Homo sapiens: one gene and its partner. The protein of the gene in region 1 interacts with the protein of each later gene in a pairwise test. Each region holds a gene or a part of one and is shown in the gene's direction. Other genes may lie near its edges.

Evidence for each region. Proteins that work in one complex are often made in the same cells at the same time.
Region 2: the proteins of CDA (region 1) and FOXN1 interact in binary tests that used the Homo sapiens proteins (3 or more experiments, as listed by UniProt).

The regions. Positions count from the first base shown.
Region 1 is NC_000001.11:20,613,097-20,619,403, forward strand, and holds the end of CDA (cytidine deaminase), read left to right. Parts: intron 1-745; coding exon 746-803; intron 804-5,355; coding exon 5,356-5,472; 3' UTR 5,473-5,807; downstream 5,808-6,307. UniProt on the Homo sapiens protein: This enzyme scavenges exogenous and endogenous cytidine and 2'-deoxycytidine for UMP synthesis.
Region 2 is NC_000017.11:28,502,534-28,509,860, forward strand, and holds the start of FOXN1 (forkhead box protein N1), read left to right. Parts: upstream 1-3,814; 5' UTR 3,815-3,910; intron 3,911-7,327. UniProt on the Homo sapiens protein: Transcriptional regulator which regulates the development, differentiation, and function of thymic epithelial cells (TECs) both in the prenatal and postnatal thymus.

The DNA.
Region 1 (6,307 bases):
ACTCTACACTTCCTCCAAGGACCAGGACACATGCCTCCTCCTCCATAAAATCTTCCTTCTCAGTCCACAGGCAGGGATGAGCTCCCTCATACTGTGTGTTCCTTCTGCAATTTTTTTTTTTTTTGAGAAGGATTTTCATTCTTGTTGCCCAGGCTGGGGTGCTATGGCACGGTCTTGGCTCACTGCAACCTTTGCCTCCCGGATTCAAGCGATTCTTCTGCCTCAGCCTCCTGAGTAGCTGGGAGCTACAGGCGCCCACCACCAAGCCTGGGTAATTTTTGTATTTTTAGTAAAGACGGTGTTTTACCACGTTGGCCAGGCTGGTCTCGAACTCCTGCCCTCAGGTGATCCACCCACCTCGGCCTCCCAAAGTGCTGGGATTACAGGCGTGAGCTACCAAGCCCAGCTGCATTTTGTTTAACATGATAACTCAGCTGGTTTTTTACATAACAGAGACAAATTCTCTTTGACCTTTGTATTCCCGGGTGTGGGTGATGGTAAGTGCTCAGTAAACGTTTATGGATGGCACTAATGAAAGTCCTGCCCATGGCCCTGCCTTGTGGCAGTGTGGAAAGCCACCACGTGGCCTTCTCAGCCTTCAGGACACAGTGGATCTGTGAATCAGGAACTGCCTGATGGGGTATGACCCAAATCAGGAACAGACCGAGTCTCAGGGCCTGAATCTTAGCAATTGTCCTCAGTCCTTGGGAGAGACTAATTTGAGTTTGATTCTTTGCTTCCCCAGTGACATGCAAGATGATTTTATCTCTCCATGTGGGGCCTGCAGGCAAGTCATGAGAGAGGTAAGCAGCTTCTCTTGCTGTCTGGAATGCAAATATCTTCCCTGTCGCAGGCTATGGGAGCCACGCCAAGTTGCAGGCATGGCAGGCATGGCAGGCGTGGAGACACAGCTACTGTCCTGTTTGCTTGGTTGGCTGACTTCTAAGGCCTCCCTACGCTTGCATGAGTCACTGGAAATTATTCCTTCATTTAACAAATACTTACCGAGTGAGTGTCTGCTTTGTGCCAGGCCCTGAGGTAGCTCTGGGGAGGCACAGGGAAAAGATGGGCCAGGCCCTGCCCTCACAGAGCTCATAGGCTAATGCAGGAGACAGATGATAAACAAGGAGCAAAATAAATAAACAAACAGTGGCGTTTCTGAGTCAAGAGGGCTATAGAGGAAAACAAAATGCAGAAAAAAAAAAGGAGTCCAGTGACAAACGGGCAAACAGGGGACACTGCAGATTGGGGTCAGCAAACAACAGCCCTTGGGCCAAATCCAGCCTGCTGCTTGTATTTGTAAATAAAGTTTTATGGGTATACAGCCATGGCCATTCATTCACCTATTGTCCATAGCCACTTTGCCCTGACACAGCAGAGGTGAGCCATTACGACAAAGGCCACATGGCCTCTAAACCTAAGATATTTACTGTCTGGTCCTTGACAGAAAAAGGTTTGCCAACCCCTGCTTTAGATATCCAGGAAGGCCCTCTTTTTGAGCATGACATTTGAGCAGAAATATAAATAATGAGGAAAAAAATGAGACAGACAAAGGTCAAAAAAGGAGATTCAGAACCAGCAAGTTCAGACCCTTGGTGAATTTGAGAAGAGGCAAGAAGGCCACGAGGGCTAGAGAGCTAGGGCCTGGTAGGTGGAAGGAAAGCAATGGGATTGAAGTCAGAGGGGTGGGCAGAGGCCAGATCACATGGGGCCTGGCCATGGAACGAAGGGTACATTTTATTCCAAGAATAAAGGAAACTGAAGTGTACACTTTTTTTTTTTTGAGACGGAGTCTCACTCTGTCACCCAGGCTGGAGTGCAGTGGTAGAGTCTCAGCTCACTGCAACCTCCGCCTCCTGGGTTCAAGCAATTCTCCTGCCTCAGCCTCCCGAGTAGCTGGGACTACAGGCGCCAGCTACCATGCCCGGCTAATTTTTGTATTTTTAGTAGAGACTGGGTTTCACCATGTTGGCCAGGATGGTCTTGAACTCCTGACCTTGTTATCTGCCCACCTCGGCCTCCCAAAGTGCTGGGATTACAGGCGTGAGCCACCGCGCCCAGCCTGGAGTGTACACTTAAACATGGTTAAAATGGCAAATCTTACATTATATATATTTTATCACATTATATACATTGGGAAAAAAGGGAATAAAGGTAAGCCATTGGATATTTTCAAGAAGAAACTTGAAGGACTTTTTATAAAAGTCCTCTTGATGGAAGGCTGCAATTTCTTCAACTCTAAAAACAAAACGGTAAGCCAGGTATGGTGGCTCAGCCTGTAATCCCAGCAATTAGGGAGGCAGAGGCAGGAGGATCGCTTGGGTCCAGGAGTTCGAGACCTGCCTGGGCAACATAGCGAGACCCTGTTCTCCACAAAAAAAAAAAAAAAGGAATAAAACAAAACAAAAAAATGAAAACGAAGGGATAGTTTAGATCATGGGTTCTTAATCCAGGCTCAGGGGAAGGTTTTCATGTTTATATGTACGTTTGGGGAAAGGGGAATGTCAGTAACTATTGTGGATTCTCAAAGAGATCTGTGTCCTCTAGAGTCCCAAAAGATTAGAGAATCCCACAGGCCCTGAGCTCCAGCATAATATCAAGAGCCCCTCGAAATACGGCATCTTGTGGGCATGATGGCTTACACCTGTAAGCCCTGCACTTTGGGAGACTGAGGCAGGAGGATCACCTTAGCCCAGGAATTCAAAACCAGCCTGGGCCACATAGTAAAACCCGGTCCCTTCAAACAATTTAAAAATTAGCAAGGCATAGTGTGCACGCCTGTGGTCCTAGCTGCTCCAGAGGCTGAGGTAGGAGGATCACTAGAGCCTAGGAGGTCAAGGCTGCAGTGAGCTGTGATCAAGCCACTGCACTCCTGCCTGGGTGACAGAGCGAGATCCGGTCTCAAAAATAAATACATACCTACAGCATCTTGTTTAATCCCCTCCCCAAGACTGAGTGAAATGCATGTCGTTATTCCCATTTCCCAGTGACCACTCTGAGGCTCAGAGGAGTAAAATGACTTACTGAAGGGCCCCCTGCCAGGCGGTGACATATGGGTATCCATGGCCCATCAGGCTGACTCTGAAGCCCGTGCTCCTCACGGCTGCCTCTCTGTCTTTGTGGTTCTGTAAGTTGGACAAAATTATTTTCAACCATGGAGGAAACATAATGGTACTTTGGCATGTGGATGCTGCTTGTACCGTGGGAGTTTCTGCTTTTGGAGTTGTGTTTTGGGAGAAAGGGGGTTGTTTTAGCTTTGTTTTTGTGCCGTGGGGTTTCAAAGCATCTGGGGATGCAGACACTTCCATCTTCCTCCTGCTTCCTGCCAGGAGTGCAAATCAGACACATTTCCCAAATCCAAAAACATACCACCGGGAAAGCAGTGAATTTACACGGTGGAATTTGTCTCACTTGAGAGGGGCAGAAATAGCTGCCCTGCACGGTGGAAATGTCGAAGGTCATATAAGGAAGCCACAACAGGGCGCCAAGTCCCTGGCTCCCAAGGCCCCGACGTGGTCCAATTGCTCAGTGCTGTTTTCTCCAAACAGATTGGATGTTGGCAAACGAGAGAAGGCAAATGAAAAAGCTGAAGGAGGCAGGGGGGAAACTGAAACCAAATGCAAATGATAAGAGATGAGGCGTTGGGGCCAGGGACCTGACACGTAAACTCGCCCTCGGCTCAACTTTTGTCTGTACCTACCCTTAGGCACAGCCTGTCAAGCAGAAAAATTTCCTTCCTTAAAACATTAATTCTAAAAAAGCCAGAAGATTGAGTGTGCCCGGGAATAACTTGGTGATTCAGAGAGAAGTGTGGAAGAACAGGAGGCTGCAGACCTGAGCAGTCACTGGCTACCAACATAATCAATAAGAATGGCATCTATTAATTGAACACCTACTATGTGCATAGAGATGCTTTACATGAATCATCTCTGCATCTCAGAATACCTGGCCAGAAAGAGCTTAGGTCTGTTGACCCCACCTCCAGGGCTCTTGTCATGACACCGCTGCTGATTAACCTCTTGCCTACCATCCTGCATTCTCCCATCCCTAAAACCATTCCATGGACCAAGACACTGAGTGAGCCCCAGAAAGTTATCATTTTCCCAAGGTCACACAGCAAACAAACAGTGCTCCTCATAGTATAGGAGAAAGATCAAGAGACAAATTTTTCTTTGCTGACTTTACTCTGCTAAGCCTCAGTTTCCTCATCAGTAAAATGGGCATCATGATAGCACCTACCTCACAGGGTAGATTATGAAACCACGCATGTGCAGTATCTATGTGGTGTGGTTTGGCTGTGTCCCCACTCAAATCTCATCTTGAATTGTAGCTCCCATAATTCCCACATGTCATGGGAGGGACCTGGTGGGAGGCAATTGAATCATGGGGGCGGGTCTTTCCCACGCTGTTCTCGTGATAGTGAATAAGTCTCATGAGATCTGATGGTTTTATAAATGGGGGTTCCCTCACACAAGTCCTCTCTTGCCTGTTGCCAGGTAAGACATCCCTTTGCTCTTCCTTCCTCTTCCGCCATGGTTGTGAGGCTTCCCCAGCCATGTGGAACTGTGAGTCCATTAAACCTCCTTTTTTATTTTATTTTATTTTTTTTTTTTTTTGAGACCGAGTCTCGCTCTATGGCCAAGGCTGGACTGCAGTGGTGTGATCTTGGCTCACTGCAACCTCTGCCTCCCGGGTTCCAGAGATTCTCCTGCCTCAAGCCTTCTGAGTAGCTGGGATTACATGTGCTTGCCACCACGCCTGGCTAATTTTTGTATTTTTAGGAGAGATGAAGTTTCACCATGTTGGCCAGGCTCATCTCGAACTCCTGACCTCAGGAGATCCGCCTGCCTCGGCCTCCCAAAAGTGCTGGGAGTACAGGCGTGCGCCACAACACCCGGCCTAAACCTCTTTTCTTTATAAATTACCCGGTCTCAAGTATGTCTTTATTAGCAGCTTGAGAACAGACTAATACACTGAGTATATGTAGCAGGCTTGCAGCTTCTCCTGGTGTGAGGTGTAAAGGGGATACTGAAGGGAAGCGGGTGTTAGTTGTCATTTGTCATAGCAGAAGGAGGTTCCAGGGGTTAGCTGTTGCTCTTATAAAGCCCTGGGTGAGTCTTGAATGGTGCCTGTTCACGATGTACCATGCACTGTTCAGTTTCACAGCATTCTTTCGTTTCCTCCTCCCTGCAGCACTATGATCCAGGTACAATTATGGTCATTCCCCTTTTACAGATGAGAAAATCAAGGTAAAGAGAGGAACATTAGACAGTGGCAGAGTCAGACTCAGACCCAGTCCGTCTCAGCCCCCTCAGCCACGCTGTGTCTCTCACGCCAGCTTTGCCTCTTTTCCAGTTTGGCACCAACTGGCCCGTGTACATGACCAAGCCGGATGGTACGTATATTGTCATGACGGTCCAGGAGCTGCTGCCCTCCTCCTTTGGGCCTGAGGACCTGCAGAAGACCCAGTGACAGCCAGAGAATGCCCACTGCCTGTAACAGCCACCTGGAGAACTTCATAAAGATGTCTCACAGCCCTGGGGACACCTGCCCAGTGGGCCCCAGCCCTACAGGGACTGGGCAAAGATGATGTTTCCAGATTACACTCCAGCCTGAGTCAGCACCCCTCCTAGCAACCTGCCTTGGGACTTAGAACACCGCCGCCCCCTGCCCCACCTTTCCTTTCCTTCCTGTGGGCCCTCTTTCAAAGTCCAGCCTAGTCTGGACTGCTTCCCCATCAGCCTTCCCAAGGTTCTATCCTGTTCCGAGCAACTTTTCTAATTATAAACATCACAGAACATCCTGGATCAAAGCGTGTGTCTTGCTCTGTCTCTATCCTTGCTTGCAGCTCTTAGGAGGGACAGCATGATTTGTCTTTATAGGAAGAGCTGGACTCTTTCTGTTCGGAGAGGAAATGGGTACCTTGGAACCATGGACCTTATGGTGTGGAGAGCTGAGGTTTTAGGCAACTTGCCCCAGCGTTCTCTAAACGGGCAGCTCCCCTGGGCTGGACCTAACTGCCAATAACCATCCTAGAGTGTGTTTTTGTCTCATCATAGACCTGAGCACCAGGAGACTCCAGAGTATAAAGGGTCAAGCACGGTTTGTCTAGACAGTGTAACAAAGGGTTTTCTCAGTAGCTACTGTATGTCAGGTAATTTGTGTGCATCATTTTAAGTTTAACATGCTCCACAGTTCTGTGAGGAGGGTGTGGAGATGCCCCCTTTTCACAGATGAGAGCACTGGGCTTTGGAGAAGTTGAATACCCTGCTCTAGGACAATGGCAAACCTCAGAACAGAATCCAGG
Region 2 (7,327 bases), on another chromosome or scaffold:
CCTTTATGGCTTCTGCATTTGATGTCATGTTTAAAAATGCCTTTCTCCACTCCATAATCATAAAAATATTTCCTATATTTTTTCTATTTGTTTGTATGATTTTCATTTTTACATTAGATTGTTAATCCATCTAGATTTTTTAATGTACAGTGTGAAGTAGGATTTAACTTTATTTCTTTCCAATGGAAAGTTCATTGCCCCAACTCCATTTATTAAATTTTTTACTTGCTACTTTAAAATACTTTACAGTCCAGATGTCGTGGCTCAAGCTTATAATACCAGTGCTTTGGGAGTTTGAGACCAGCCTGGGCAACAGAGCAACACCCCATCTCTACAAAAAAAAATTCTTTTTTAACTAACTGAGCATGGTATAACTGTAGTCCCAGCTACTGGGGAGGCTGAAGTGAGAGGATCACTTGAGTCCAGGAGGTGGAGGCTGCAGTGAGCTATGATCTTGCCACTGCACTCCAGCCTGGGCAACAGAGCGAGACCCTGTCTCAGAAAAATAAAGTAAAATACCCTACTATTATATATCTATTTTAAAATACCTTGTTATCATATTCCCATTTCTCACAAATATCCAAGTTTATTCTGGACTCTATTATCTTCCATTAATTTATTTATTTCTGTATCAAAGTTGCAGCTTTAATTATGGAAGCCTTATTGAACATTTTGAAAACTGGCAGGGAAAGTTACCTCTGTTAGTCTTCTTTCTCAAAAAGCTCCAAGCTATTCTCATGTATTTACCCTTCCCCCAAACTATAGAATCAACTCGTCAAGTTTAGGGGGCAAAAAATCCTTTAGACTTTTGATTTGAATTACATTCAGCTTCTATTTAGAGGAGAACTGACATCCTTACAATATTATATTCAGCCTTCCTGTTGTTGCTGTTTTAGAGACAGGGTCTCTCGCCTTGTAGCCCAGGCTGGTGTCAAAACTCCTGGGATCAGGCGATCCTCTCACCTCCCGAAGTGCTGGGATTACAGGCATGAGCTACCATGCCTAGCCTTTTTTTTCTTTTTTACTTTTTTTTTTTTTTTTCAGCCTTCCAGTTCAGTAACATGATATGCCCTTATTTTTTATTCAGGTCTTATTTTATGTCTGTCAGTAAAAATGTATTGTTTTCTTCATGTAGATTTCATGCATTTCTTATTAAGTTTATTCCTGGATATTTTGTATTGTTATTTTTGTGAGCTAAATCTTTTTGTCTCCTTTTTTTTCTTTCTTTTTTTTTTTTTTTTTTTTTTTTGAGACAGGGTCTCACTCTGTCCCCCAAGCTAGAATGCAGTGGCTCACCGAAACCTCTCGGCTCACTGCAACCTCTGAATCACTGGCTCAAGCAATCCTCCCACCTTAGCCTCCCAAGTAGCTGGGACTACAGGCGCGTGCCACCCCACCCAGTTAATTTCTGTATTATTCGTAGAGACAGGGTGTTGCCATGTTGCCCAGGTTGGTCTTGAACTCCTGAGCTTAAGAGATCCACCCGCCTCAGCCTCCCAAATTGCTGAGGTGTGAACCACCGTGCCCAGCTATCTCCTATTTTAATTGGTTGTTTTAGCTGTATAGAAATGGTTTTGATTTTTATACATTGATATATTCTGCTATCTTACTTCATTCTCTCATTTGTTGTAATAGTATTTTAGTCGATTCTCTTCGATTTCCTAAATAAGCACAACATTTGTAATTCTTGAAGGTTTTGCATCCTTCCTTCTTATATTAATGCCTTATTTCTTTCTCTTATTGTACTGGTTGGGGCTTTCAGAATAATGTTCATTGATAACAACCATGGCAGCCTTCAACTTACAACTTTTGTGGTTTTCTGTGCCCAGAGTATCCATACAGAAATATCTGTGAGTCTAGAAATAACAATTAGCTCTGTGTACATCAGATAGAAGCAGTTAGCAAACACCCAGGTCTTGATAGCTGCCCTTTCACTGTGAAACTCCGTAGACTATTAGGGTTAAGGGAGCAGAGCTTTGACTGCTACTGTGAGTCCCAGAGAAAGGTGGATTGAGTCAGGGCCCCTCTCCTAACCCCAGAACACAATTCTTATACTGGAGTGGGCATGCCAGCACGTCCTCATTTCTTTCCCAGCACCACTGGCCTTGGTGAAGAGAAAGGAGCCACTTGTTTACTGAGCATCTACTATATACAAGGGGTTGTGCTGAGAACTTTAGACATATAAATTTATTTAATCCTCACAACCACCCTGTGGGTGAGTATTACTCCCTTGTTAACAAATGAGGAAACTGAGGCTCAGAGTGGGGAGTATGGAAGATCACACAGCTAACCATCACTTACAAATGGGTTCATTGCTGTCTGCCCCTGCATCCTCTTTTCTGAAATGGATATTTAGTACAGAACATTTTCCGCCTCCACTAAGAACTCTCTAAATGTTTTAGCATGCTCCACACTTGTGCCAGATGACCACCACTGTGCCCCGGCCAGGGTTGATATTACCTCTCTCCTTGGAATGAGATAGTCACTGGGGAAGAGCTGACTTGTCCATACCCTCAGGCCAGAAGCCAAATCCCAGAACTTGCTGGGCAGCAGTGCTGGTACTAGGTCCTTAGAGCCTTTAGCTCCAGGAAGAGACACAAGTGGGCTTAGAGGCCAGTGCAAGGGTCAGGGAGATGGAGGAGGGAAAGAATGACCAGGGACAGGAGACAAGGGGATGGAGGGCAAAGAAGATGAAAAGGAAGCAGAGAGAAGGAGGTGAGGACAGGGTCTGGGGGAACAGCAGAGAAAGCTGTCAGGGAGCAGGGACAGGCTCCAGGCCTGAGTCCAGCTGGGACCAGGGAAGCCAATTCCTAGGGCTTCACCCTCAACATGAACTCTAAGGGGCCAGAGACCAGGGCAACAGCCACTCAGGTTTCTGTTTCTATCCTCCAAATAATGAAGAGTAGCCTGGGATGAAGACACAGAACCAGGGAGCCCCCATCTCCACCCCCACAGACACCCACATGCTCACACAGGACTAGGTTGCTGACCCACAGCAGAGACGTGTGCACAGACATGAGCATGTCAACACACGGACGACACACGGGCCTGGGTCCGGGGACACAGAGACACAGACACAGGGGAAGACATGCAGACACACGCCCACCCAGGAGACAGATGTACAGACCCAGGGAGAGATGCAGACAGACTCGCATGTATCTGCCCCTGAGGGAGAGGGAGATGGGAGTCACCAGCACATGCTCCAGTGGGTGCACACGCCCCCACCCACAAGGAGACACCCTCGAGGTGCTGCGGGAGCTGTGGAGAGACAGACAGATGGCCGGCCCCATGGACAGACAGTTCCCAGCAAATCTGTGCTAATGCTTGGCCCTTGAAGGGCCCAACCTGTCCATGCCGTGCCTCAGAGAACCCTGGGCTGCCACCCAGCGCTGTTCCCCAGAACCTCATGAGTGGGCTCCATGAGCATACATGTGGCGGCCAGGCTCTCCTGACACACGTGCATGCTCCAACAGGCCTGTGCCCCACCTGTGGGTGGGGGGGCGACATCTCCCTTCTGGAGTGCAGGCGGGGGCCACGGGACAACCCCCTCCTCTACAAGCCACAGGCTGTGCGCACTGGCAGGGACAGGGGAGGGGGCCTGGGCTAGCTCAGGAGGAGGGAGGGGTTGGGGGGCCAGGGTGCGGCTGGGGCGGGCACGGGAGCCGGTACCTGTCAAACAAGAGCCAAGGAGCAAACTAGCTTCTTAGTCACCTTTCTCTTCTCCCCGTTTTGGCGCAGCCCCTCCGGGCAAGGGGAAGCTGATATCATAATTATTGGCTCACCTGGCAGCTGCCTCCCCTCACCTGATGTCAGCACAGACACAGGACGGCCGAGCTGACGGACTGACAGACGGACAGAGCTCCTGGCCCCCCAGACCCGGGCCCCCACGCCGACCTGCTTCACTGAGCAGGTAAGAGGAGCCCCGGCCCAAGTCAGCCGTGGAGGCCAGCAGGGCCGGGCTGGGGCACGGGGAGGGCGTTCGCCTTTTTAACGGGGCTCAGGAGTGACGGGGAGCACCCAGGTTCTCACTGCAGCTCAAGGGAGACTCAGAATTCGGGTGAGTGCCTGGAGGCCAAGGGGCACCCCTTCCCCCACCTCCCCCTCCAGTTCCTTTTCTAGGTTGTCCAACTTTAATCCCTCTTGCTGTGGTGTGGGTCTCATTCTGGTGTGTGCTGGATTTTGTGTGTGTCTCTGTGTGTTGGAGATGCGCTCACCCACCCTGTGCTGGGAGGAAATGAGGACTCAAAAGTGTTAGATCTGGAAAACTAGAGCTGAAAGGCAGGGGGCCAAGTTCTCCATGTAGTGGTTTTCCAGGTGAAGAAGGGAGAGCCCAGCTCTGGGAGCTGGGGAGCACCAAGGGTGTGTGCAGATCAAGGAATTGCTCAACATCTCCACGCAGCCTGGGCTGGGGTCTAGATGCCTGGGCCCATGCAGAGGCCTGGGTTGCAGAAAGGAGATGGTGCACCTTGTGGCGAAGCAGACAGGTGGCAAACAGGTGCTGTGGCCATGAGTTGATGCTGGGCTTAGGGCAGAGTCGCCTCCTATCCCCAGCTCCATTTCTCTCCCGCAAGACCCCTAAGGCAGAGTCCTGGTGAGCAGAGCTGGGCCAGGCAGGGAGCCCTGAGGCCTTTGGGGCCTAGAGTTGGGGGCGTGGGAAGTGAAGGCCCTTAGGGAAGTGGCCGAAGCAGCAGGAAGCCCCTGCCAGCTCCCCCGACTCCTCCCCACCCACTACCCGCTCAGATAAGGTTCTGGCATTCCCCGTGGAGTCCCCCAGGCCCTCCCTAAATATCCAAAGAAGCCCGTTGGATGAAGAGTAGACTCTAGCAAGTGGGCGTGTTTGCCTCTTCTCTCGGCACCTACAGGCATGGGGGATATGTCTGGATGTGCTTTGTGGCAATGCACAACTGGTCAGTGGGAAGGGACCCGGGCGGAGGGGCTCATCTTGGGAAGTCATCCTATCCATCCCCTGCCCCTATGCCAGTCATTGCCCACATCGGGCAGGGCTGCCCCTCCTAGTTTTCCTAATCCCTGAAGGAGAAAATCTGGTCAGTTTCCTCACAATCATGAAGTCCTTCCTGGAGCCTCTCTGAAGTCTTTACTGCTGCAGGGTCCAGCTCTGCTTGCCCGGTAGCCTTCTTCCTCCCGCACTGAGGAACACTAGTTCCTCGGATCCGAGGGCGGCGTTGCACTGCAGTCCTGTCCCCACCGGGCTTGGCTCAGAACCTTTTACCATCTTGCTCATTCCCTGACCACAAGACACAGGCAGTACAAGGGCACCCCGAGTGGATGGGGGAAGGGGCAGGGCCTCCTATCCTGGTCCCTTTCTCTTGTGGCTCTGTGAGGGGTCCAGGGTGAGCCAGGCAGGGACAGAGCCAGGCTGAGTCCTGGAGAGGGGCAGACGGGGTGAGGGCTGCCCCAGGTTGGGGATCCTCAAAGGCGAAGGAGCCACAGGGAGAGGCGCATGTCCTCCCGGCTCCCCGCCCAGCCCCGCCCCGCCCGCGCTGCCTGTGCGAGCTCAGCTCCCGGCTCCAGGGCCTGCCGAGGCACGCTGCACCCCCAGGCCCGGCGCCTCACTCACTCCCAGAGCCAGAAACCTGTTCTCCCGGGAATGCCAGGGAGTTCTCAGAGGACTTTATTTCCCAGGGGCTCAGGGAGCCCCAGAATCTTCTGGACCAGTGGGTCCTGGGAAACTAGAGAAAAATTAGGGGGCTTAGGACCCCTCCCTGCTCCCCAGCTTTGTCTCATCCACGCACTGACGCCACATTGCCTCCAACCAACAGCCGTCTTCACCGTGAGAAGGCTTCATCGCGAGAAGGCTTAGGAAAGTTAAAGACAAGGGGGAAAGCCCACTGGTGACATGCACCTTCTGTCATGTGCCATCCGTTGCCTCAGGGAAAGCCTTCCTTTCCCCCCATCCCCCAGACAGTCCCATCTGGCCTCTAAGAAAGCAACATATCGCCTCTTTCCTTGGACTCTTCACCTTCTCTAGCTAGGAAGTCCTTCCTGATGTCTAACCTCTCCCTTTCTGGCTTGAGTTGACACCTGGTCTTCATGGACCAGCAGAACCCCCATTGCCTGCACAGGGCCCAGGCACATAGGCAGAGACTGTTCTAAGTCACAATGAAATGCCCTGGTTGCTTGGGCGCTGGCAGGGACAGAAAGGCCCCACTCTCGCTGCGCCTCTTATTCTCTCTGACTCCACATTCTGACGAAGTTGCGGTCCACTTCTGCCTGCCTCCCCATCTGCCCATAACAAAAGGATGGAGGGGACCGAGGTCCTGCAGGTATGCCCTCCCCTCTGTCCTTCCAAATCACAGCCTGCCATCCCTGCTGTGGCTGGCAGAGGGGAGTTCAGGAAACCAGGATTGGCTTCTGCAGCAGGAGTGACTGACAGAGTTCAGAGAAAGTTCTCAGCATTTTAGGTTGAGTTTGACTGGACTATGTGACCACAGGAGGTGGTTTCCTGAGTGGAGAGGCAACCATTGATCTGGGGTGGGTGGGGTTGGGCTGGCAACATGCCCAGGAGCTGGGGAAGGATGAGAGGACCTCCAGGAGCTGGGGAAAGACAAGATGACCTCTGGGAGAGGGCCTCCCAGAAGCACGAACCACATGGTTCCAGAATACATTGGGTCTTTCCAGCTTATTCATCTCCATCCCCTGCCCCTCCCTCCCTCTCTGTGCCCAACTCCAACCTCATCCCTGACCCTTCCACCCGTCTCTGTCTCTTTCCCCATCATAACCTATCTCCATTCCCACCTTCAATCCCGCCCAGCCCCCTTCCTACTCATCCCCGTCCCCAAACTTGCCTCCATCACCACCACCCCATCCTGCTCCTTCCTCCTTACCTCATCTCCTCACTCCCACCTCCAACCACACTCCTATCCCCATCTCCACCTCCTGCTCCATTCCTCAGGATGGATCTCCTCCTATGTCACAGGTTCCCTTGGAGTCTAACACCCCTCACCAGCATCCCCGCCAGGTTCTGGGGTGTCCCCCAGGTTGTCTGAGCATTGAGGAAAAGCCCAGAGCCATGCCAATAGACAAAACGAGCAGGACAAGATCATCCCTGGAGCAGCCCTTAGCTTCCTCATCCTATCTGGGCCGTAAAGGCTGGATGCTCACCAAACAGTAAAAATGAGTTCAGATGCAACAAGACAAGTGGAGGGCTGGCGCCCAGACAGACCTCCACACTGCGGGCATGTGGCAGTGAAGCGGGGATGGAGAGACACCCTCATAGAGCCCCAAAGCGGGGCCGGGGCAGGCTTTCTCAGGGGGCTGGGAGCGTAACTGATCCTATCAGGCATGGCGGGCCAAGGAAGAGGGGGCA